7 linked regions of the Homo sapiens genome follow. The protein of the gene in region 1 purifies or fractionates together with the protein of each later gene. This does not show direct contact. Each region holds a gene or a part of one and is shown in the gene's direction. Other genes may lie near its edges.

The links.
Region 2: the proteins of ACKR2 (region 1) and ARL6IP5 purify together in Homo sapiens (affinity purification with mass spectrometry; one large-scale study listed by BioGRID and IntAct). This does not show direct contact.
Region 3: the proteins of ACKR2 (region 1) and DGAT1 purify together in Homo sapiens (affinity purification with mass spectrometry; one large-scale study listed by BioGRID and IntAct). This does not show direct contact.
Region 4: the proteins of ACKR2 (region 1) and PTDSS2 purify together in Homo sapiens (affinity purification with mass spectrometry; one large-scale study listed by BioGRID and IntAct). This does not show direct contact.
Region 5: the proteins of ACKR2 (region 1) and SLC7A1 purify together in Homo sapiens (affinity purification with mass spectrometry; one large-scale study listed by BioGRID and IntAct). This does not show direct contact.
Region 6: the proteins of ACKR2 (region 1) and VKORC1L1 purify together in Homo sapiens (affinity purification with mass spectrometry; one large-scale study listed by BioGRID and IntAct). This does not show direct contact.
Region 7: the proteins of ACKR2 (region 1) and ATP12A purify together in Homo sapiens (affinity purification with mass spectrometry; one large-scale study listed by BioGRID and IntAct). This does not show direct contact.

Annotation. Positions count from the first base shown.
Region 1 is NC_000003.12:42,815,945-42,819,444, forward strand, and holds part of ACKR2 (atypical chemokine receptor 2), read left to right. Parts: intron 1-3,500.
Region 2 is NC_000003.12:69,087,937-69,091,436, forward strand, and holds part of ARL6IP5 (PRA1 family protein 3), read left to right. Parts: intron 1-3,500. UniProt on the Homo sapiens protein: Regulates intracellular concentrations of taurine and glutamate. Negatively modulates SLC1A1/EAAC1 glutamate transport activity by decreasing its affinity for glutamate in a PKC activity-dependent manner.
Region 3 is NC_000008.11:144,320,353-144,323,852, reverse strand, and holds part of DGAT1 (diacylglycerol O-acyltransferase 1), read left to right. Parts: intron 1-2,444; coding exon 2,445-2,532; intron 2,533-3,500. UniProt on the Homo sapiens protein: Catalyzes the terminal and only committed step in triacylglycerol synthesis by using diacylglycerol and fatty acyl CoA as substrates. Highly expressed in epithelial cells of the small intestine and its activity is essential for the absorption of dietary fats.
Region 4 is NC_000011.10:456,779-460,278, forward strand, and holds part of PTDSS2 (phosphatidylserine synthase 2), read left to right. Parts: intron 1-3,408; coding exon 3,409-3,500. UniProt on the Homo sapiens protein: Catalyzes a base-exchange reaction in which the polar head group of phosphatidylethanolamine (PE) or phosphatidylcholine (PC) is replaced by L-serine. Catalyzes the conversion of phosphatatidylethanolamine and does not act on phosphatidylcholine.
Region 5 is NC_000013.11:29,585,689-29,589,188, reverse strand, and holds part of SLC7A1 (high affinity cationic amino acid transporter 1), read left to right. Parts: intron 1-2,396; exon of another isoform or gene 2,397-2,464; intron 2,465-3,500. UniProt on the Homo sapiens protein: High-affinity, low capacity permease involved in the transport of the cationic amino acids (arginine, lysine and ornithine) in non-hepatic tissues.
Region 6 is NC_000007.14:65,949,574-65,953,073, forward strand, and holds part of VKORC1L1 (vitamin K epoxide reductase complex subunit 1-like protein 1), read left to right. Parts: intron 1-3,500. UniProt on the Homo sapiens protein: Involved in vitamin K metabolism. Can reduce inactive vitamin K 2,3-epoxide to active vitamin K, and may contribute to vitamin K-mediated protection against oxidative stress.
Region 7 is NC_000013.11:24,700,908-24,704,407, forward strand, and holds part of ATP12A (potassium-transporting ATPase alpha chain 2), read left to right. Parts: coding exon 1-15; intron 16-1,027; coding exon 1,028-1,164; intron 1,165-3,500. UniProt on the Homo sapiens protein: The catalytic subunit of a H(+)/K(+) ATPase and/or Na(+)/K(+) ATPase pump which transports K(+) ions in exchange for Na(+) and/or H(+) ions across the apical membrane of epithelial cells.

The DNA of each region.
Region 1 (3,500 bases):
GCTGCTTACTAGTTATGTGACACTGAGCAAGTTAATTAATCATCTTGTACCTCTGTTTCTTCATTTGTACAATAATAGGTCCTACTTAGTAGGACTCTGGGGAGTGTTAAATGATATATAAAACCCCAACATTAACTGGCATATAGTAAGTGTTATATGTGTTAATTGTTACGACATTCTGTGGGTTTTTTTGTGTGTTCCTGTAGATACTACTCAGCTAACCTATAAACACAATTGATAGTTTCGTGTGTGTGTGTGTGTGTGTGTGTGTGTGTGTACTTTGCATTTTAAAATGTCTTTTGGTTACTGAGGGTTTCCATAAAAATCATAAATATAAGATGCTCACCATCAATATGGTGTACTTCAGCAAAGAAGAAGCTAGGAGCTAGAAACCACCTTTGATCTCTTTAGTTTACATAGTGTCTTACCTTTTATATTGCTGGTTTCATCAACTGGTTCCCATTAGCAACCAAAGTGGCAGCAGGATTTGTGTGTTTATGTAGTGATAATTTTTGTAGTGAACAAAAATATTATACTTTAAATATTTTAGTCTTGAATTGACTTTTCCGCTGAGGAAACTCAGTGGAAAAAGTCAATGAACTGAGGCACTCAGTTCATTTTTTTTTTTTTTAAGGTAGAGTCTTGCTTTGTCACCCAGGCTGGAGTGCAGTGTGCAATCTCAGCTCACTGAAACCTCTGCCTCATGGGTTCAAGTAATTCTCATGCCTCAGCCTCCCGAGTAGCTGGGATTACAGGTGTTTGCCACCACACCTGGCTATTTTTTTCTATTTTTAGTAGAGACAGGGTTTCACCACGTTGGCCAGGCTGGTCTCAAACTCCTTACCTCAGGTGATCTGCCCACCTCAGCCTCCCAAAGTGCTGGGATTACAGACGTGAGCCACCATGCCTGTCTAGCACTCAGTATTTTTTATTGCTGTTGGGGACAGCAGGACACTTAACAAGTACTAATGAAAAAAAAATTTGGTAGAGTGGAAAAGGCACTGGCTTTGGGCCCCTGGATTGCTACCAGGCCTGAAGTCAAAAGACACGGCTTTGAATAACAGCTTAAATGCTTATGGACATTATGACCTTGAACACGTTATTTAGCCTCACATTTTTCATCAACACAATGGGGATACTAGTAAGTATATGCCTTATAGGATAGCATTGTGTGATCTAAGTGACCATACATAAGGCACCAAGAAGAGTGCTTGGGATGTAATAGAGCCTCAGTACATGTTAGATCCTCTCACCAAACCAGGCCCCTTCCTCTTGCTGCTATCTTCTTAAGCATTAACCAGCAATGCAACCTCAAGCAAGTCACTTTTCTTTTTTAGACCGTGAAGTTTTCTGACCCCTTCTCTAAATCAATTCTCTCATTTATTCTTGTTCAGCCTCGACTTCCATTCCCCTGATATCCCCACTAACCGTTTTCACAGAGAGCATTGAAAAATTCTCTCAGCTTCCTCCTCTCTTACCCTACCTGCGTCTCCATCAGTCGTTTCTTCTGGTTTTGGGTACCCTCCTCCCACTGAACACCCATCAAACCCTATGCTCTGGATTCCATCATTTTTTGCCATTGAATCTGTCAGCTTTTTGCTCTCTCACCTGTAATTTCAGCCTCTCCTCGCCCCTGCATCCAGGCTTCTCATACTCTTCCATTTAAAAAAGATTCCTTCCTAGATTCTTCATCCTTTCTCCAGCTATTGCTCTCTTTTCTTTCTCCTCAGTTTAGGAGAAAAAAGTGTACATATCATCCCACATCTTCCCCCCAACCCAGCTCTCTCAACCCACTGGTTTCCATTCTTGTCACGCTACTGAAACAACAATAGTAAAGGACATAATTCAATGGACATATTTCAGTTTCTCAGCCCATATCTTACTTGACTCTTCTATCATATTTGACATTATGAATCTTCCATTGACACTCTTCTTCTCATTCTCCTTCCAGTCTGGTCATTCTTTCTTAGTTACAGTGACTGAATTTATTTCCTGTGTCCCTTAAATATTGGTGTGCTCTAGGGTTCTGTGCTCTCTTTCCTTCTTACTCTCTGCCCTTCTCTTAGAGTAATCTCATGTACTTTTATGGTTTTTTATTCTCATCTGTATGCTGATGTTCTTTTCTCTCCTCTGTCTGCCACACTTCTTGCCTGTGTTCCAGAGCTATCTATTCAACTGTGTTGGACGTCTTCACTTTGGTATTCCACAGACTCCATGTGTCCATAAATGAGCCGTGTTAACCATCTCTCTCCTCCCCTCTTCTCTGCTCTCTACATCTCTCTCCGCACAAGCCTGCACTTTCTCCTAAATTCCCTGACGTGTTTGATGGAACAACTGTCCATCCCATTCACCAAACATGAAAGCTGGGTCAATCCCTGATGCCACTTCCTCCTTTCTTCACATCCAGCCAGTGACATCTGAGCAGAGAACTGAATGACCAGGGGTCAGCTCTATGAAGATCTAGGGGAAGAGCTACAGCAGACATGAGACTGAGTTTTCACTTTCATAGTGATGTGCTCTGAGCAAACTGGCCCAGAATTGGCTGCTTCCTACAAGCAGTAATGTTGAGAGGATCATTTACACAGGAAAGCACTTAAACAGATCAAATAAGGAAAGACATTGGCATAATTTTTTTGAGACGGAGTCTCACTCTGTCACCCAGGCTAGAGTGCAGTGGCGCGATCTCGGCTCACTGCAACCTCCATCTCTCGGGTTCAAGCAATTCTCCTGTCTCTGCCTCCAGAGTAGCTGTGATTACAGGCAAGTGCCACCACACCCAGCTAATTTTTGTATTTTTAGTAGCGACAAGGTTTCGCCATGTTGATCAGACTGGTCTTGAACTCCTGACCTCAGGTGATCTGCCCGGCTCGGCCTCCTAAAGTGTTGGGATTACAGATGTGAGCCACCATACCTGGCCCATAGATTGTTTTTACTGACAACATTTTCAAACAAAATGCTGTCAGGTTGTCACTAAAAAATGGATCTTGGATTCTTTGCAGCTCCTCAAATTCCTTTTTGTTCTTTCTGTTAGTTCTTTGCTGGGGTGTTGGTGGGGGAAATGGGGGGCAGGTGGGATGGTGGGCACAGAATTTTCCTGACTAAGCCGAAGCTCTCCTGCCTCTTTTACTTGTTCTGAAGACTTTTGAATTTGAGATTAACAACACAACCATCACCTCTTAAAAGTCTGTATAACTTTATCTTGCATATATTTTGTTATTAAATATGTCTTTTAGTAGAGAATGAGTAGGAAGACTTTGGTCTTTATAATATTCAGTTTTATGTGGGTTATATCCTGATTTTTAAAGTTAGAAACTCATAATTTTATGTAATTCTATGTAACTAAAAAGATTGATTTGTTTTTATAATCTATATTTGTATAAGTATGGGACTAGATTACACAAAACAACATTGATCACTGGAACTAAGAGCTTTCTTTTGACCACAGGCAAACAGCTCTTTCCAGTAGAAAAGAGCTGGGCTCCCTCACTGTTTCCTGGCTC
Region 2 (3,500 bases), about 26 Mb from region 1:
CTCTTTTCTTTCTTTATCATTTAATAATATAAATATTTATTGAGTGCTCTGTGTGTCAGGTACCTTGCAAAGTATTTTACCTGCATTATGTCATAGAACCCAATTTTAAAAAACTGTTACTTTTTTTTTATCATTAAACCTGAGGCTCAGAGAGGTTAAATGATTTACTCAAAGTCACAAACTTAGGCTTGTGCTCTTAACTACTGTTCTGTCTTACTATGAGTCACAAGGAAGAAACCAAACATCTTCAGAGTTAGGGAGCGTCCTTGATTCCAGAACACTTCTCATTCTAAAGAGAACTATCCTCTTTCGGTGATGCTAGTAGATGGGTAGGTCAGAGCAGTGCTGGCAGCTGTTCATCTGGATCCTCCACAGACTTCTCTCTAGTTTCTCAGAATATCTTGGTAGAGTATATGTGAAAATGTGACCTGGATAAAAGAGTGTTCAACAATGGTTCCATCCCCTGCTGGTGAGGAGAGCCTCAAGGGCATTGTAGGAGTGCTCTAGCCTCAGCTCTCCAATGTTGGAAACTGGCTTAGATGAGGATAGAGAGGGCCTCCTCTTCAAGATTTCAGGAAGGGTGAGGGAAGAACATAGCAAATACTATCTAGATCCAGAAACACTGGAAAAAACTGCCCATACCAAGACGGAGATTAAGAGGGATTAGGATAGAGATAAATCTGTGTTTAAACTTCTGATCAGAAGAGATTGAATTATTTAAAAGGAATAGCATGAATAACAGGCTAGGAAACTTGCGTTTTGCTGGAAATGCCTTTGGATCCTTTACATCAAGAAGGAAAAGTGTCTAAGATCGAAGTTGCCATAGCTTACCTTCTGCATCCTTGATGTGAGACGTTTTGGGATTAAGATATTCTTTTCACATCACACACAACAATAGAAGTCTCTACCTTGATCTTCAAAGTGAAAAACAAAGGCAACACCTAATGACACTTGCAATTTAAGTACTAAGCGTGTGATACATTCTAGTTGTGGATGAAAACTTCTTTGTGCTTAATGGAATGCCAAATGATTTGAGCTGGAGAACTCTGTTCAGTGTGTGAGCCATGGAACAGCAGCATCTTTCGCCTGAGAGCTTGTCAGAAGTGAAGCATCTCAGGCCCCATTTCAGACCTACTGGGTTAGAATCTACATTTTAACAAAAGTCTCAGATGATTCATAGGTACATTAAAATCTGAGAGGCACTGGATTGGTCTGGCTCAAAAGAAAATTTAAATAAATATACCTATATGCCCAGGTGTCACCTTCCGTGATTCAAAATGTATAGTTCTTGGCAGGGTCCAGGCATCTGTTGTTTTTTTCTTTTTCTCTAACTTCCTAAGTGATTGTGATTATACACCCCTAGGAGAAATACTGATCCTCTTGAACCCCGTAACTTCTGAAATGTAAAAGCTCGAGGTCACAGGCTAATTGGAACTAAAGCTGCTAATAATAGGAAGTGAAATATTTTTTCCATTAAGCCATATTGCAAATTTTCTAAAGCTCTTGATTAACCAAATTCAACTGCATCCCTGACTCTTACAATATTTGCAATGCTATTGCTGTCTTATTCTGAAAAGTTCTTTCCTGGATGGGTATAGTGGCTCACACCTGTAATCCCAACACTTCGGGAGGCAGAGATGGGAGGATTGCTCAAGGCCAGGAGTTTAAGACTAGCCTGGGCAACATAGTGAAACCCTGTCTAAAAAAAAAAAAAAAAAAAATTATTTTCTGCCATTAGAACTCATATTTTCTGGTATGGCCTCAGAATCACCAACCACACACAGAATTTGCAACATATAAAAATGCCTCTGCTGCTTCTCCAGCAAGAGAGCTGCATGTATTCTTATGTATATACATTTGTGCCTCCCCCTTTAGATAGAACCATGTAGCTGCTGAAGGAATGAGCCCATGATTTCTCAGCTGAAGTAACTCCTCACCATGTGGCCTGATCATTTGGCCTATGGAGATGTTGCAGGAGGGTGGAATTGACAGCTGCCACTTTATGCTTTCAGTTACTCAAGATGGTAAGGAGTTTCTAGAAGGCTGGTAATTATAAGTTTGAAAACAGCATTAATGTAATCTTTTCAAAATGAACGTGGCTTGGTGGCTCTGTAATATGTTCTAGGCCTGTGGCTCCCAGCATCTGGTATTATGAAATGTTCGTATTGTTTGTACCTTTAAATGCTGTAAAGATGAAGAACCAAGTTTCCAGTTGGTAGAGGAAAAAAAGCGTAAGGCAACCCTGGGAGGCTCTGGATCAGAATCTATTGAAATGATTGCAGATAGAATGAGTTGCAGTCTGTTTATACTAAAGCAAGTGGAAATGTTTTTGAGATTAGTCAGCTTCAACACCAGTTCTACAACATTACTCTTATTTGTGTTGCTTCATTCATTCAATTAACAAAGAGTATGAAGCACTTACCAACTTCTCAGACACTGCTAGGAGATAGTGAAGAATAGGACAGCTGTGATTCCTGCCTTCACGGAAAGGCAGCAAGACCACACTGAACACATGATAACTAATTTGTATACAAGTATAGCAAGTGTACAGAAATACACACCTACATAAACACATCCTTCTCAACCTGACTTACCTGATCTCCCCTGTACATTATTACTCCAAATTCCAAATCTCTCAGGTGTTGGGAATAGGGGAGGCATTGAGTATGTAGACAGGAAAAAGGTTTTTTTAAATTTTACTATCCTAACCCACAGCTCAGATCCTTCTATTCCATTGAACAAATACTGAGCACCTACCATGTGGTAGACACTGTCTAGGCCCTGAGGATACAGTCAGGAGTACAACTCCACCAGCCTTCCCAAATCCTCCCAGAATTCTCCTGCCCTTCGATGCCCATTTATTTGCATTTGAGGCTGGCACCTGTCTTCCTCTGATGGCTTATGTGTTTCTTCTGAATACAGAACTTTAAGAGGTCTGTCAACACACAGTAACATTTTAATCTCAAAATCTTTATCTAGGCTGGACATGATGGCTCACGCCTGTGATCCCAGCCCTTTGGGAGGCCGAGGCGGGTAGATCACCTAAGCTCAGGAGTTTAAGACCAGCCCGGGCAACATGGCGAAACCCCATCTCTACCAAAAATAGAAAAAATTAGCCTGGCGTGGTGGCATGCATCTGTGGTCCCAGCTACTTGGGAGGCTGAGGTGGGAGGATCTTTTGAGCGTGGGAGGCGGAGGTTGCAATGAGCCAAGAACGCACGCCACTGCACTACAGCCTGGGTAACAGAGTGAGACGCCGTGTAAAAAATAAATAAGTAAATATAAATCTTTAATAAGGATTGCTTTTCATTAAATAACCTCTGACAGTGTATGTGTGTATATGTGTGTGTATATACATACATATATATATATTTTGAGACAGGGTTTCACTCTATTGCCCAGGCTGGAGTATGGTGGCGCAGTCATGGCTCACTACAGCCTCTACCTCCCTGGGCTCAGGTGATCCTCCTGCCTCAGCATCTTAAGTAGCTGGGACTATA
Region 3 (3,500 bases), on another chromosome or scaffold:
GGCCCTGGAGCTGCACTGTGTGGGCCCCAAGTGTGGGACTCACTGGGACCTGTGCCTTTGGGCACACTTTGAACCTGGAGACAGGGTGGCGGGTGGGCATGTGCCAAGGTCTCAGTGTTGCCGTGAGACTGAGAGGATCCTGCTGGCTGGGTGGGCCTGGGGGCTGCAGGAGGGAGGGCAGGCTGCTCCGAGTCTTCTTGGACTAGGGAGTGGGTGTAGGGACAGCTGGAAGGTGCAGAGGCTTGGGCAGATCCTCCAGTCAGTGAGAGGGTGATAAAGGTGCTCTAGGCACAGGGGCAGATCCCACCTCCCCATGCCGTTCCATGCAGCCTGCCCTGTAGCCCACATGCTGCTGGCCGCACTGACTGCTTGGAGCTCTGTGGGCACTGGTGGACTGGGGCTTCCTCCTCATGGGGGCCTGTGAGGGGTAGGGGTAGCGCAGTGGGGGTGCTGCCTCTGGGTGGGGCTGGTCAGGCCTGTGAAGGGCCTGAGGTGAGGCTGTGGCTGGGTTGAGGAAGGCCTTGGAAGCCTGTCAAGGGGCCCCTGAGAAAGCTTGTGTAGGATTGTCTGCAGTGAGCTTTGGGAAGCACCACCCTTTCCCGACTCCTGTTTTCATCTTGGAGATGGGCATGGATAAAGCCAGCATGGTGTCCTTGGTGGCTCAAAGGGGGCAGGGGTCATACTGCTGTGAAACAGCTGTGGTTGGTAGGTCGTGGTACAAGAAGGCCAACCCTGAGGCTTGGGATTGTTCTGCTGAAAACAAATGGGCTCGAACTTGGGGAAGAGGGGGCAGTGGAGAGGCCCCCAGACAGACAGCCCAGAGAGGCTGCTGGGCAGTTGGGCCTCGTGCCCCTGCTCCCGTCACGGTGCTGGGGCTCTGGCGGTGTCTACACCCAGCCTCCTGGTTGTGGGCAGGCAGTGAGTGGAGTAGGCTGGGGAGATGAGCCAAGGGCGGTGGTCAGTTGGGAAGACAGCTGCCAACTTGGGGAGGAGGGAGGCTCTGGTGGAGACCACAGCCTCACTGCATGGCCCAGGATGGACCTGGTGGGTGGATGCAGGGCGCTCAGGCTGGAGCTGGGAGAGGCAGGGGCTGGGTGGAGCTGCCTGCCCCTGTGTTCCAGTCTAGATGGGCAGAGGGAAAGGTGTGAGCATCCTCCCTGCCTGGGGGTCTTGGGGACTAGTGTAGACTTGTCCAGGAACTGTGTAGGTGTAGATGGGGCATGTGTTGCACCAACCTTGGTCTTGGGGAGCAAAGGTTGGGCTTGTTGGCATTGCCTCTCGGCCTCCCTGGCCCTTTGCCTCCTGGGCAGGGCCGTCTGACTGCCGACCCCAATCCTAGCCAGCTTGCCTTGGGTGCCCTGAGGGCGTCTGCCTCATGGGGCTCCTGCCATGGCTCTCAGGCCCACTCTCCCTGCCTAGGGGCTCTGAGGGGCAGATGTGCGTGTGCGGGAGGGAAAGGGAGGCTCTGGCCTCTCCTCTTACAAAGTTGAGGACTTGCTCAATGCTGTGTGTGGTGTCCCAGTGGCACGGCAGATGGGGGGTGAGGCGGGCCTGCAGCTAGTGTATATGAGCCAGCACTGCTTCCTAGGACGTGTGGGGGCCTGGCCAAGCTCTTGCTGTCCTTGTCCTAGCTATATGGCAGTCCCTCTATTGGGCTGGGTGCCCTCTTCCACCTGTGCAGTATGCTGAGGACCAGGCAGGGTCTGCCTGTGCCCCTCCAGCGCTGGTTGGGAGATCATGGGTGGGTGCCTGCCTCTGTTGGAAGCCTCTCAGCCAGCAGGCACCTAGCCCCGGGTGGGTTCCTTTCAGCCCCCTCAGCCTGGGCACACATCACAAACAAGTGGAGGCTACACCGGCACACGAGGGCTGGATCCCTGCCTCTGGGAAAGTGCATGTCAGGCTGGTGTGTGGCTGGCGCCTGGCCTGCCTTTGCCAGTTTGAGCCTGCACGTCCAAGTGTGGGGACCCCTTAGCTCCCGGGTGCTGGGATGGGCCAACTGAATAGGGTGGACTCAACCCTCACCACTTGGTCCCCACAGTGCTGGGCAGTGCCCCCTGGTCCATCCCCAGGTTGGACCCTGCTTGTGGCCCCAGTGCTAGTCCACAGCCAGAGTACATGGCAGTGGCCAGAGGCCTCTGGAGAGTGAGGCCTGGAGTGTCCAAGCTCCATGTAGGTCCAGTCCGGGCAGGGCCAGCTGGGCTTGCTTCTGACCCTGACATGCTCGTCCCGCTGCCTGGAGGTGCAGGCTCTGGGGGTCCGGAGAGCTTTGCCCACTGTAGGTCTTGAGGCCACAGTGTGGCTCTGCCTGGCTTCTCCTCCTGGTTGTAAATAAGGAGTGGGGCCTGAGGGCAGACGAGGACACTGGGGTGGGGGCCTGGATCCTGCGGGGGTGGCGCTGCCCTGCTGGTGCCCACTCAGGGGGTGCTTGTGTTGTGCTCTGTCAGGTGCCATCGCCTGCAGGATTCTTTATTCAGCTCTGACAGTGGCTTCAGCAACTACCGTGGCATCCTGAACTGGTGTGTGGTGATGCTGGTGAGTGGGACATGGTGTCGGGAGCGGGTCTAGGTCCAGGTGGGGCTCTGTCCCAGGCTGGCCTTTGCCTGAGAACAGGCTCTGTCACCCAGGGTGTCCAGGCTGGAGCCCCTGTGGGCTGGGGTGTGTGGAGCAGGCTGCACCTCCATGTGGCTGCCAGCACTGGACTGTTGGGGAGGGGAGTGGCAGTGGCTGCCCCTGCTGTGGTCACTTGGGTGCCCATGCACCACATACTTGCTGCTTCCCATTGGATCCCAGGAGAGCCCTGCAGATGTGGTGTGGGCGTGGGGAGGCCGAACAGTGCCTGGCTGGAGCCTGTGTGTTGTGAGCTGGGCCTGAGGGGTGCAGGGCCTCCAGGGAGGGCAGGGTGGAGGGGGTCTTGCCCTGGGCTGGTGGGAGAGTGGACTGCATGCTCTGTGGACACAAGGCCTCTCTGGCAGGGGATGTGAGAAGAGCTTCCTGTGCTACGCCACATGGCCTCTGTGGGTATGGAGCCCTGCAGGCCTGGCCACCACTCTGCAGTCCTCCTGGCCCCTTCCCTCAGCTGTGGGTCCTAGGAGCCCCCCAGGAAGGTGATTAGATGGAGCCCTGTGCCACGTCCAAGGCCTGCTACCTCTGGGCCTGGTTCCCACTGGCACTTCGTGGGGTGGGGCTGCCAGCCCCACCCCAGAAGTAGTTGGAGTCTAGGGCTCAAAGGGGCACCTGCAGGGCAGGTCGGGGACAAGGGCTATCTGGGCCCAGCCTCCCCAACTCAGGGCTGATGTGGCTCGAGGCCTTTGACCTTCACCCAGGCGTGTCTATCTCTGGCCTTGGGTGCTGCTCCTGTGGCTACCCACGTGGAAGGGGCTCCACGCACATCCACATCCCCCACCGCCCATGGTCCTAGAAGGTTCCCTGGGGGTGGCCAGCTGTGGAGGCCCACGAGTCCTGGTGGCTGAGAAGCTGGCCAGGCAGGAGGACAGTGGGCC
Region 4 (3,500 bases), on another chromosome or scaffold:
GTCTCTCAGTACTGAAGGGCCCCACGGTGTGGAGCTCAGCAGGAAGGCTGAGGTTCCCTGCGGTTTCCTCATGGCTTAGGACTCAAATGCAAATGTATCTAAAGAAAAAGGTGGTTGATAGTCACAATGAAACTTTTATTTACCTCTGGTTGTCTTAAATGCCTAGTATTGTAAAATATGGCAGAAGAATTCACTTTCATGCCTGTAATCCCAACACTTTGGGAGGCCAAGGTGGGCAGATCCCTTGAGTTCATGAGTTTGAGACCAGCCTGGAAAACATGGCAAGACCCCGTCTCTACAAAAAATACAAAAAAATCCAACCTGACCCACATGGCAAGACCCCATCTGCACAAAAAATACAGAAAGTTCCAGCCTGGAGCCTCCACCTGCAGTCCTGCAGCTCCACCCTGGCTCTTCATGAAATCGGCTAAGTCCAGGTGTGGGTGCGTTCAGTGCAGCACCCACGTGCAGGTGACACGCCCATGCACCGCCACAACCACGCTCACACCAGAACATTCCATCATCCGGAAGGCCCGTGTCTCCGCTCCAGTCTGCTTTTCGTGGATGCAAACTCATTTCCTTGAGTCGTGTGTGGGTGACAGCAGATGGGAGGTTTCTTTTGTGCCTGGCGTCTGTAGCGTGTTTTTCTTTTTCTTTTTTTATCTTTTGAGACGGGATCTCACGATGTTCATGATGTTGCCCCGGCTGGTCTTGAGCTCCTGGCCCAAAACAGTCCTCCTGCCTGGGCCTCCCAAGGGGCGTGTCTTTGAGATCTATCCACGTTGAGGTCGTTGCCAGCAGCACATTCCTCTGAGTGCTGAGCCATGCTCCGCTGGTCGGAGGGACCACAGTGTTTCCTCCACTGATAGAGTTTTGGTTTGTTTCCCGTTTTAGGTTATTATACCTGAAACATCTGCATGTAAGTCTTTGACTGGACCTGTGTTTTCATCTGTCTCAGGCCCACGTTTGGGAGTGTGTCTTTGACTGGACCTGTGTTTTCATCTGTCTCAGGCCCACGTTTGGGAGTATGTGGCTGGCTGGATAGCAGACGTAGCATAGGCCTCACTTTTCTGTGCCGTTTTGCAGTCCCACCTGCAGTGCGTGAGCATCTTGCTCCGAGACCTCACCAGCACTCTGCATTGTGATGTTCTTAATTTCAGCCGTTCCAGCAGATGTGCACTGATGCTGTGTCGTGGCTTGGATTTGTGATGCTTTTAATTTCAGCCGTTCCAGCGGATGTGTACTGATGTGTCCTGGCTTGGATTTGCTTTCACGGTGACCAGTGCTGCTCCTCGTTTGTTCATGTGCTTATTGGCCATTTGTATGTTTTCCTTGTGAAGTGTCTGTTCAATTTTTTGCCTATTTTTTCATTAAATTGTTTATTGAGCTGTATGAGTTCTTTATAAATTCTGGATAAAAAGTATTTTTTTTCTTTTTTTTTTTTGAGATTGAGTCTCGCTCTGTCGCCCAGGCTGGAGTGCAGTGGCGCGATCTCGGCTCACTGCAGGCTCCGCCTCCCGGGTTCACGCCATTCTCCTGCCTCAGCCTCCCGAGTAGCTGGGACTACAGGCGCCCACCCACCACACCCGGCTAATTTTTTGTATTTTTAGTAGAGATGGGGTTTCACCGTGTTAGCCAGGATGGTCTCGATCTCCTGACCTCGTGATCCGCCCGCCTCGGCCTCCCAAAGTGCTGGGATTATAGGCGTGAGCCACCGCGCCTGGCCTGATTTTTTTTTTTTTTTTTTTTTTTGAGACAGATCTTGCTCTGTCTCCCAGGCTAGAGTGCAGTGGCACAATCATCCTAGCGCACTGCAGCCTCAACCTGGGCTTAAGCGAATCTGCCACCTCCCGAGTAGCTGGGACTACAGGTGCCTGCCACCACGCCTGGCTAATTTTTTATAGAGATGGGGTCTCACTGTGTTACCCAGTCTGGTCCTGAACGCCTGGGCTCAAGCAATCCTCTTGTCTCAGCCTCCCAAAGCGTTGGGACTACAGACGCGTGCAGCCTACAAAGTTTTATCAGATATATGTATTGTGAATATTTTCTCCCAGTTTGTGACTTGCCTTTTCATTTCTTTAGGGCACAAATAGTTTACATTTCATGGAGGCAAGTCCTGGGCAACATGCTTTAAGTGCATTGTTCACTTAATTTTCATGATGTCCTTGGAAGTCAGAAGCTTCCCCATTTAGATATGAGGAAACTGAGGCACGGAGGGGTGCATCATCTCTCCAAGGACACACTCCAGTGGATGTAGGACCTGGGTTAGACGTGAGGACACACTCCGGTGAATGTAGGACCTGGGTTAGACGTGAGGGGACACTCCGGTGGATGTCGGACCTGGGTTAGACGTGAGGACACACTCCGGTGGATGTCGGACCTGGGTTAGACGTGAGGACACACTCCGGTGGATGTCGGACCTGGGTTAGACGTGAGGACACACTCCGGTGGATGTCGGACCTGGGTTAGACGTGAGGACACACTCCGGTGGATGTCGGACCTGGGTTAGACGTGAGGACACACTCCGGTGGATGTCGGACCTGGGTTAGACGTGAGGACACACTCCGGTGGATGTAGGACCTGGGTTAGACGTGAGGACACACTCTGGTGGATGTAGGACCTGGGTTAGACATGAGGAAACTGAGGCACAGAGGGGTGCATCATCTCTCCGAGGACACACTCCGATGGATGTAGGAACTAGGTCTCTGCCTCCATTTGCAGATGGTCATGCAGAGGGGGTCTCAGGCGAGTGTCTGGCACAGGCAGTGGCTGGGGTCTGGTGGCCCCCAGTTCTGATACTAGGCTGGTTGTGGGCTTTTCCACCAGCGATGGGACAGGACAAGACTGCAAAGGGAGCGCCCTGCCTCCTCCTCCCACGTCTGGGCTCTGACAGGCCAGAGGACGGGCAGACCCACGGCTCGTGGCTCACTCCAGCTAGCAGCGGTCACTCTGCAGGCCTCTGCTCAGGCCCCTTCTCAGCTCTTGGTGTCTTGGGCTGCTGCACTGAATCTCAGATGTTATTTCATGAACCCAAAGAGTTGTTGTCTCGGCTTGTCTTGCGCAGTGAAAAGCGCGTGTTTTACGTGTCCAGTTGCTCTTAATAGCAGATACCTGCCCTGGACGCCAGTGGCAGCATGTGCCCTCTGAGCAGCGGCCTTCAGCTTCCCAGGAACACGGGGCTCTTCCTGTCCAGCCTCCTGGGGGCTGGTCTCAGCCCTGACTGGCCAGCAGACGCAGGGTCATCTCGGAGTTACCCAGCTAGGGACTCGCAGCCAGTTGCTGGTTGGGAGTTGGAGAGTGGAGTTTAAGCCCTCTCCTTGACGTAGAGAGGATTTGGGGCCTGTTACGTGAGTATTTAGCAATGCTGCCCAAGCTCTGACACCATGCTTATGCGTTTTTGGATTTCAGGCGAGCCCACACCTTAACCGTGCTCTTCATCCTCACCTGTACGCTTGGCTATGTGACGCTGCTGGAGGAAACACCTCAGGACACGGCCTACA
Region 5 (3,500 bases), on another chromosome or scaffold:
GCTGATTTCTACAATATCTTGCGGAGGTGCCCCCTTTCCTTAGAGGATGCATCTTTAACACTCTCAGAGAGGCTGGGGCAGGAGCTGTCCACACCAGGGCCTGCAGCAAGGGCCCGTCTTCCCCAAAGTGACTTGGGAGAGTCTTCCTGGCCCGCAGCTTTTCCACAGTGTCAGGGACACCTCCTGCCCTCCCTTGGGATGAGGCCTGGTCTAGGAGCTGGGGGCGTTAGGGTGCAGTTTCTGGGACCCAGTGAAGGCCCCTGGGAAAGACTGGCAGTTAGAGTTAGGAGAACTCTTCCCTCATCCCTTTTGCCCTTCTCCTTTTCCCCTTTTCTTTTTCAGCAGTTTTTGGATAACATTTCAAACTTAAAGAAAAGTTGCAGAGGCCAGGCATGGTGGCTCACGCCTGTAATCCCAGCACTTTGGGAGGCTGAGGCAAACAGATCACTTGAGGCCAGGAGTTTGAGACCAGCCCTGGCCAACATGGTGAAACTCATGTCTACGAAAAATACAAAAGTTAGCCTGGTGTTGGTGGCGCATGCCTATAGTTGCAGCTACTCGGGAGGCTGAGACACAGGAATCACTTGAACCCGGGAGGCGGAGGTTGCAGGGAGCCGAGATCACACCACTGCACTCCAGCCTGGGTAACAGAGTGAGATACTGTCTCAAAAAAAAAAAAAGAAAGAAAAGAAAAGAAAATTTGCAGGAGTGCAAGGAACTCCTGGGTACCGTCTCTCAGATGCACAGGTGGGTTATGTTTTGCCTCCTTCTATTCTCTCTCCACCCCACACAAACTCACATGCACACAGACACATACATTTTTTTCTGAACCATTTGAGAGTCAGCTGAAGACGTCATGCCATTTTATTTGCCCTCTATACTTCAGTGTATATTTCCTAAGAACAAGGCTCTTCTCTCACATAACCATGGTACAATAGCAAAGTCAGGAAATTTAACATTAATACAACCCTGCGATCTAGGCCACAGTCCATATTTGACTTGCAGTCGTCCACATAATGTCCTTTATAGCTAAGTATTTTTGGGGAAGGAGTTTTGCAGTGTGGGGGTTCTTTCAAAAGAGGTGTGATTTTCTACCTCATAAGCCTTTTTAAGAAAAAGTGTTTCTAAAAGTTAGAATGTTTGTTGTGGAAAATTTGGAAACTACAGAAAATTAAAAGAAGGAGAAAATAAAACCCATTCATAATTCCAGCTCAGAGGCTGAGTGATCGACCAGAAAGGTGGTGGAAAGACTTTCTCAGCTCCTTCAGCTCTGGTGACCTGGCCACACAGACTCGTGATCCCTCCACCACCCACACACTAGTCAGGAGCCCCGCAGCCAAGTCCTGGGGCTGTGGGAGGAGCCGGCCCCTGTCTGGAGCTGACGGTCTTTCATGCTCCTGCCCACCCCTTGGGCAGGTGCCCACCGAGCAGGCAGACTTAACCAGCCTTGGTGGTGCCTTTGTGGTGCATATCCTCCAGGTGGGGAAGGGTGGAGATCGTTAATAAATATCCAGAACTTGTTTGAGACTTGAAAAGAAATGTTGCAGGCCCACTCTTGTCTGGTCTATACCCCTTGCTTCCTGGACTTGGCAGAGGTTAAGGATGGGGCCTGGAGCGTGATTGAGGGAAACAGCACTGGCCCCATATCAGTGAGCTCTTGGGTGCTTCATGTGGTTGTTAGACTTGCCTTTTAATGAGCCTCTTGGCCCCTACCAGTGGGCTACGGAAGAAATAAAATGTGAAATTTTACCATGTGAAGTTTGCTGTTTGCCAATGACTGTGCTTCTCAAAAGTTCCTAGGGAAAGGTTTTAAAACTGGTGCAGGTAGTGAAGTTTGGATCTCGCTTCCCTGCTTTGTCCGCTTAGGTGGTCCATTCGCCATAACAGCTGGAACTGAGAGTGGCTCTCCCCTTTCCTGGCCCAGAACGGGTCTTTGCTAAGCGAGTCTGGTTTCTGGAAGGATTTTGTTCTTAGAAGCTACTACGTCATTGTCCTCAGCTCCCCATCATTTGTACCTCAGTTTCCCTGAGCTGTAAGTCTATGTTATGTGTGAAAATGGGCCTCTGAAGGTCATGATCAAAAGCCTTGAGTATTTTTCCATGTGTTTGTTTTTTCTACTCCGGCCCCAGACCCTCTCCTTGAAGGAGCTGGCCTTGAGAGTGACTTCGGTGGGCAGCCGCCCAGACTCCACACACCCTGCTGAGTCCACGTAACGCCCAACCTGGACGGGCCAGAGCTGAAGGGCTACTCTTCAAAGAAACCCTTTGAAGTGCAAACATTTCCTTTCCTGAAAAGAAGGGAAATTGAAATGAAAACGTATTGTTCTGTGCAGACAATGTTCTCTTCGATCAAAGAGGGAGTGGGGCTTATAAAGGGAGATGCACAAATTAGAGCTTGATGTGGCCAGTGGTGTGGATGTGAATATTCATCCCTGTGGAGGAAAATAGTGGGGTCTCTGAGATTTGTAAGATTGTATTTTCCTTTTTTTTCTTCTTTTTCCTTAAGGCTCTGAATCTAGGTCTAACGTTCTATTTAATGATGTCTCTCCTTTGTGTTTTTATCTTGTGGTAAGCATTTGGGAGTGTCTTTCAGTAAATCATGATACCATTTCCATGTTAGAATACTATGTAGCCAGTAAGAATGGCGTTTTCAAAGAACATTTGATTTTGTGGGAGAAACTTTAATGTTAAAAGTGAAACCATCTGGGTGCAATTTCCCATGTTCCGTGTTAGCTTAATGAGATATATGTATTTGCACAGAAAGAAAAGACTGGAAAAATTGGACTTTGTTTTTCTCACTGCAGTGTTTGTGGCACCTAAAATAGTGCTCAAGAAATATTTATTGAATGACTATTCTTATAATTAGTAAAACTGTATTTAAAGGAGGAATGTCTTTGAGCTAATGTTTTGGCAGGTGGATGGGACAATATATTATTTTAAGTTTCTGTTGTAATTTTGCCCTAGCAGCTCAGTTCTGGTAGATTTTGTTCTTTGGCACACATACATACCCCATTTTGCACTTTGGTACAAATTATACTGTGAATGGGTGACTTTGACATTTATATTTTTGGAAGAATCCAGTTCTACTGAAATCAGAGTATCAGATGTTGTCTTTTTCCTAATGTTCCCAGATGGGGTAGAATTACAGCTTCTTCTTACTTACTCTGTAACTAAGGAACCTTTGGGCCAGTTTGTCCTGTCCTGTGGTTGAGAATTTTTGCCTGGTTTGCCCAGGGTTTCTCATCCTTGAGCATCCAAGGCTACCAAGATACACTGTTCATATGTCGTCCTGGTTTCTAATGGATAGTTATCTAAAAATGCAGCTTCCCATTCTTACCTGCACTGTAGGTTAGCTTGGAAGATGTCCATCCCTGGTCTCAGTGGTCTTGTTCAGGGAGGGTGACTGTCACAGCTGTCCTTTCCTCTCTGGTGAGATTGTTTCATTCCTCCTTCAGGCACTTGGGATTCAGAGCCCTGTTGGCTGCCTCTTCTGTACTGTCA
Region 6 (3,500 bases), on another chromosome or scaffold:
GCAGATTACTTGAGCCCAGGAGCAACATGGTGAGACTCTGTCTCTGTAGAAAATACAAAAATTAGCCAGGTGTGGTGGCACACACCTGTAGTCCCAGCTACTTGAAAGGCTGAGGTGAGAGAATCACTTGAGTCCAAGAGATGGAGGTTGCAGGGAGCCGAGATCACACCACTGCACTCCAGCCTGGGGGTCAGAGCAAGACGCTGTCTCAAAAACTAATAATTTAATGTGAACTGTGTTTCAACATAGTGTCGTTTATCCTAAGTGTTATTGTTAACATCTAGGTTTCACTCCTTTTACTTCCAAATAATGCTGCAGTGATCAACTTTGTTTAAAGACCTCCTGCTCCTTCCTTCCTTTGAATTATCTCCACAAAATAAATTTCCAAGCATAGTATCAAAAAACACAGATATTTTCAATTTTAATCAGTGTTACCAATTTGCTTTTCCCTCAGTTCTTTGGTTTCCCTGAAGCTCCAGCGGTCTTTATTTTTAAGACATGCTTTGTAAAATTTCTTTTTTTTTTAATTGTAACGATAATCTTCACCTGGAAAAATTGCTAATAGTTACACATTAGTACCTATTACTTTAATTTTTACTCTTTTTAATTTCCTTTTATTGCCCATTTAGCATTTAGTTATTGGATCCCGATACTAGTACATTTTTATATGTGTTACAAACATTTTATGCATTCTTTATCCTTTTTTGTTAGTGTTATGAATTTGTATTGTATTAAGTTTTTATACTTTTAGAGTTAAATCCATCTGTTGATGCCTTTGCATTTTATTTTTCTTCTTTTTTGTAGATCTTGTTGCATACCAATGCTTTTGTATTTTAATTGTTAATATTCCATTACCTGTCAGCTCTTCTGATTTGGTTCATTAAAAATACATGTAACTCTTCTATCTGAAATTGATTTGTTATGAGGCAAATTATAAATCTAAATCATCCTCAGTAGTTCTGTCGAGTTTGCCCAGTTCCATATCTATGTATTTATCTTGCAGAAGTAGAAAGATGTGTGCACAAGGATATTCATAGCAGTACAGTGTAAAATAGCAAAAAAAAAATGGAGGTAGGTTACAAATAGATAATGGTTGAATAAATTAGAAAATACTATGAAATACTATGTAGCCATTAAAGGAAAAAGGAGATCTATGTTTATATCCTAGAAAGATAAAGACACTATTTAGTGAAAAAAGCAAATTTTGGTATAATAGGTATAGGATAAACGTGTTTGTATACATGCATGTAAATGCATAGAAAAGGGTCGGGTGGTTGGGGAGGAGGGAGAAATTTCACTAGGTATTCTGCATGTTTCCATTTTGCTGGATTTCTAGAGAAGAATATGAAGTATAAGCCCAGATGCAAGATGTTTTCCTTTAAAGGCAAAGAACCTAAGAACAGCCTTTGACTAGATTAACTCTTGAAGATAGAGGTGTGACAGCCAAATTTTTGTTTTACCATTAATTTAATGCCATGGTATATACATATTTTAAATCATATTTATCACATGTGTTTTTTCATTCGCATTTTTTGACTCGCATTTAGATGCTTCACGTGCCTTTTAATGTTGGTGTCTTCATGGGAGGCACATTTGAACTAACCTAGCAATTTCCAGAGCACAGCATCTGTACTCCCTTCTAACCTGTTTGAGACACAGCATTTTTAATTTAATTTTTTCATAGGTAATCCATTCACGTGGTTCAAAAGTTTTTAAAAAGGACCGGGCACAGTGGCTCATGCCAATAATTCCAGCATTTTGGGAGGCCAAGATGGGTGGATCACGAGGTCAGGAGTTCAAGACCAGCCTGGCCAACATGGTGAAACCCCATCTCTACTAAAAATACAAAAATTAGCCAGGTGTGGTGCCGCACACCTGTAATCCCAGCTACTTGGGAGGCTGAGGCAGGAGAATTGTTTGAACCTGGGAGACAGAGGTTGCAGTGAGCTAATGTCGCACCATTGCACTCCAGCCTCGGTGACAGAGCGAGACTCCTTCAGGAAAAAAAAAATATATATATATATACATATATAAAATGTTACACAAAGAAAAATCTATCCCACCCCTTCCCTTTATGCCTGGTTTCCAGTGCTCCTCAGCCCCGACTGGTAGCTTGTTATTGTCTCTTTATGCATATACGAGAAAGTACAAATACACAATCTTAATTTTCCTCCTTTTTAAAATATAAAAGGCAGATGCTATACCCACTGTTCTGCAGCTTGCATTTTCTTTTTTTGCCTGATGAATATATCATGGTGATTTTTCCATATCAGTATATTAAATGTCTTCATTCTTTTCTACAGCTGCAGAATAATCCATTGCATAATTGTACCATCATTTATTTAGAGTTACAGCACATTTTAAATTCCACTGGGAATTTGACCCTGAGCCAAACGTACCTAGCTGCATTACAGTAGCATTTAATGGATATCTGGTATTTATACACTATTCTAAGTGCTTTAATCCTGCATTATCTCAGCTCATTTAATTGCCCAGCAGTCTTAAGAAGTAGGCATGATTGTTATCCCAATTTTACAGTTGAGAAAAGAAAGGCATAGAGGAAGAAATAAGTTGCCCGTATCATTCTGAAGTTAACTTTCTTAGGTAAAATTGTGACCACATTAATTTCGAAATGTTAGTTGTTTAGCATAGGTGAAGTCAGCAAACTTTTTCAGTAAAGGGCCTGGCAGAAAATAGGCTTTGCCAGTTGCCGCAGCCACTCAACTCTTCTAGTATGAAAGCAGTCACAGACATTACGTAATGAATGACATTACATAAATGAATGAGCATGGCTGGGTGCCAATAAAACTTTATTTACAAAAGCAGGTAGCTGGCCAGATTTGCTAGTCCCTGCAACAAGTAATTCAGCAGCACCTTAGTCTTGAAGTGCCCTATGAAAGCATCTAGGCCCGTGGCTGTGCGGCAGCCGGCCCACAGGCGTCTTCTTGTTGCATTTTTTTTTTTGCCAACAGGGCCCAGGATTTCAGCTCTTTAACTGACTTCTTTATACCTGCTCCCACCTGTTATTTTGTTCCTGTTTCTGTTATCCTTATCCATGAGTCATTGGGTAGGAGGGTAGTTTAACATGCTCTGCCTTCTCTGTCCTTGAAAATAAATGCACATATTCTCTATACTGTTGCCTATAAGAAATTAAAAACAATACATGTGAAGATAGAGTCCAGAATTCAGGTGCCTTTTTTTTTCCTTTTTTTTTTTTTTTTTTTTTTTTGAGACAGAGTTAAGACTCTGTCGCCCAGGCTGGAGTCCACTGGTGCAATCTTATCTCACTGCAACCTCCGCCTCCTGGGTTCAAGTAATTCTCGTGCCTCAGCCTCCCTTGTAGCTGGGGTTGCAAGCGTGCAATACCATGCCCAGCTAATTTTTTTTTTCTCTTGTACTTTTTAGTAGAGAGGGGCTTTCACCATGTTGGCCAGGCTGGTCTCAAATTCCTGACCTCAAATGATCTGCCTGCCTTAGCCTCCCAAAGTCCTAGCATTACA
Region 7 (3,500 bases), on another chromosome or scaffold:
AGTGCAGGGATCAAGGTGGGAGTTATTTTCCTGACTCAAGAAGTTCTTTCTTTATGTCGTGTTCCTTTCTAATAATGGTTTTCATAGCAGATGGTCAGTATTTAGGTGTCTTCAAGTAAATATCATAATTCCTATTTTATTTCTAGTTTCACTGTGCTAAGGTTACTGAAACTGTCCCACAAAAAGAAAATGATTGTGTCTATGTGGAATGAACCACATAAACAGTAAATGCAATGAGAAGAATCTCCTAGTGCCTTGAAGTGACCATATCTCGCCCTAGTCCATGGTAGATACTAAAAGGCTTTATTGGCTGGGCGCAGTGGCTCATGCCTGAAATCCCAGCACTTTGGGAAGCTGAGGCAGGCGGATCATCTGAGGTCAGGAGTTCCAGACCAGCCATGGCCAACATGGTGAAACCCCGTTTCTACTAAAAATACAAAAAAATTAGCCAGATGTGGTGGCACACACCTGTAATCCCAGCTACTCGGGAGGCTGAGGCAGGAGAATCTCTTGAATCCAGGAGGCAGAGGTTGCAGTGAGCCGAGATCACACCATTGCACTCCAGCTTGGGCAACAAGAGTGAAACTCTGTCTCAAAAAAAAAAAAAAAAAAAGAAAGAAAGAAAAGAAAAGAAAAAAAGAAAGAAAAAAGGCTTTATTACTCAGTCTTGAGGCTCAGCCCCCATAATCCATGTTCATCATTACTAGGTTAATATTAAGACTGTTGAAGTAACATGGGGCTACCCCCAAGTAGACACTCACCAGCCCTTTCACAAATAAAGTGGCATCAAAGGGGAAGGGCTTCCTTTCATGTCAGAGGAGGAAGCGTATGAAGCTTAGGAGCAAGGGTAGACCCAATGGGATTAGTGTTTCCTCCAAAGACAGTTGTCTCGTAGATCCAGAGCTGCCACTGTAATCACCAACCACGTTCTCCCAGGGCACTACAGAGTAGGTATTACTGAACCATCCCCACTTTGGCCAACCGAGTTCTTCATTACCCGTGGGCCTTCTCGTTGTCTTTGCTCTAGGTTATTATGGTTACTGGTGATCATCCCATCACAGCCAAAGCTATTGCCAAGAGTGTGGGGATCATTTCAGCCAACAGTGAAACAGTGGAAGACATTGCACATCGCCTCAACATTGCTGTGGAGCAAGTTAACAAACGGTAAGCACAGGAGCAGCATAGTAAAAATTCCAGTTTATACCCATGGGGCCCCACTGGCTCTAAAGAGCTGCACTACTTGGAACAAATCAGCTTTTTGCTCTCAGAGTTATGCTAGGCTTGTTTGAGCTATTATTTGCATATCCATGTATTCACTCTAATTTCACTGAGCAGCTAATATGTGCCAGGCACAGTATTGATACCATGAAATGACCCTTTATGTGTTCCTTGTTTGAAATTTCAAAATCCAGTGTGCCCTGGGCACAAAACCTATGTGCCCAATTTAGAATAAGAAAAACTGAAACAAAGGGTTTATGTGAAATTACTTGCCATAGATGCAGTTGCATAATTTGGAATCGTAAGAACCCTGTGGGTTGTTTCATGCACCCTCCTTGGTAAGCATCTTGGGTATTTATCCACCCGGTTTCATAACGTGTAGCTATGTAAACACACCCTTCTTTTTTATTTGGTAATAGATAGAATGGAAGCTTCCTAAGGAAAGTTTTTTTCCTTGTTTCTCCTAATTCTTTTAATCATGTTTATCCTTATTCTTTTAATCATGTTCATCCAACTGTACATTCACTCATGTATTTGTTCTTTCAACAAGTATTTACTGCGTGCCAACTATATACCAGGCAAGACCTGGAACTACAGTAGCAAACTGAACAATACTATCCACACCGTTGGGGAATCTTTCCATCGAGCCAAGGAGACACAAACAAAGCTAACAATGATGTGGCCAGTGTAATGAGGGAGCCACACAAGGCTAGGGAGCTGGGCATGCAGGAGAGTGGCCTGGACTGTGCCTGGTCTCCATGAGTCAAAGACTCCGAATTCTCAGGTTGAGAAGTAATGTTCATTAGCTGGGTTATGTTTTCACGCATGCGGGAGATGAGGGAAAGACCAATGCACCTCTTCAGTTTCCCCAAGCACTTAGGTCTTTTAGGGACACACAGCTGTCAGGTCATAACAAATTACCACGTTAGACAACCAACCAGGGTTCCCGCCTCTGGGCACAGCAGCAGTACCTGAAGTCTAAGAGTCTTGCAGTGCCCTTTAGTATACATAACATCCCTCTATGAAAACAACTTTGGGGCTTGTTTATTTGTTTGGTTTTGTAAGATAATCGGATTATACTTTTTTTCACTTTAGAATTTTAAACAAATTTTGTTTGTTTGTTTGTTTGTTTATTTAGACAGAGTCTCTCTCTGTCACCCACGCTGTAATGCAGTGGTGTGATCTCAGCTCACTGCAATCTCCACCTCCTGGGTTCAAGCGATTCTCCTGCCTCAGCCTCCTGAATAGCTGGGATTACAGGCGCCCGCCACCATGCCTGGCTAATTTTGTATTTTTAGTAGAGACGGGGCTTTGCCATGTTGGCCAGGCTGGTCTCAAACTCCTGACCTCAAGTGATCCACCCACCTTAGCCTCCCAAAGTGCTGGGCTTACAGGCGTGAGCCACCACACCTGGACTAAAAGAAATTTTTTTAAGAGTAGTCAAGTGCAGTAGTGAGAAGAGGGGAAAGAGTAGAAGTTTGATCTGTAACTGACTGTGAACAATCAGTTGAGCTAATTCACTACTACCTTCAGACCAGCCGAGTCTTCTTTTTTTAGATACAAGGTGTCCTGTCAGATCACCCAGGCTGGAGTGCAATGGTGTGATCATAGCTCACTGCAGCCTCGACCTCCTGGGTTCAAGGGATCCTCCCCTCTCAGCCTCCCAAGTAGCTGGGACTACAGGCTTGTGTCACTGCACCCAGCTTCATTTTAGCAGATTTTTTTTTTTTTGAGATGGAGTCTTTCTCTGTTGCCTAGGCTGGAGTGTGGAGTGCAGTGGTGAAATCTCATTGCAGCCTCCACCTCCTGGGTTCAAGGGATCCTCCCCTCTCAGCCTCCCAAGTAGCTGGGACTTTAATTTAAAATTTTAGCAGATTTTTTTTTTTTTGAGATGGAGTCTTTCTCTGTTGCCTAGGCTGGAGTGTGGAGTGCAGTGGTGAAATCTCATTGCAGCCTCCACCTCCTGGGTTCAAGCAATTCTCCTGCCTCAGCCTCCTGAGTAGCTGGGGTTACAGGCATGTGCCACCACACCCGGCTAGTTTTTGTACTTTTAGTAGAGACGGGGTTTCACGATGTTGGCCAGGCTGGTCTTTAACTCCTGACTGCAAGGGTTCTGCTCGCCTTGGCTTCCCAGAGTGTAGAGATTACAGGCGTAAGCCACTGCGCCTGGCCCATTTTAGCAATTTTTAATGAAAGTTGTATATAAGATACCTTATTCCTGCATCTTCTCAATTGCTTCTTTTTTATATTTGCCCTTCCTTCCCTACTTAGGAAGATTTGTT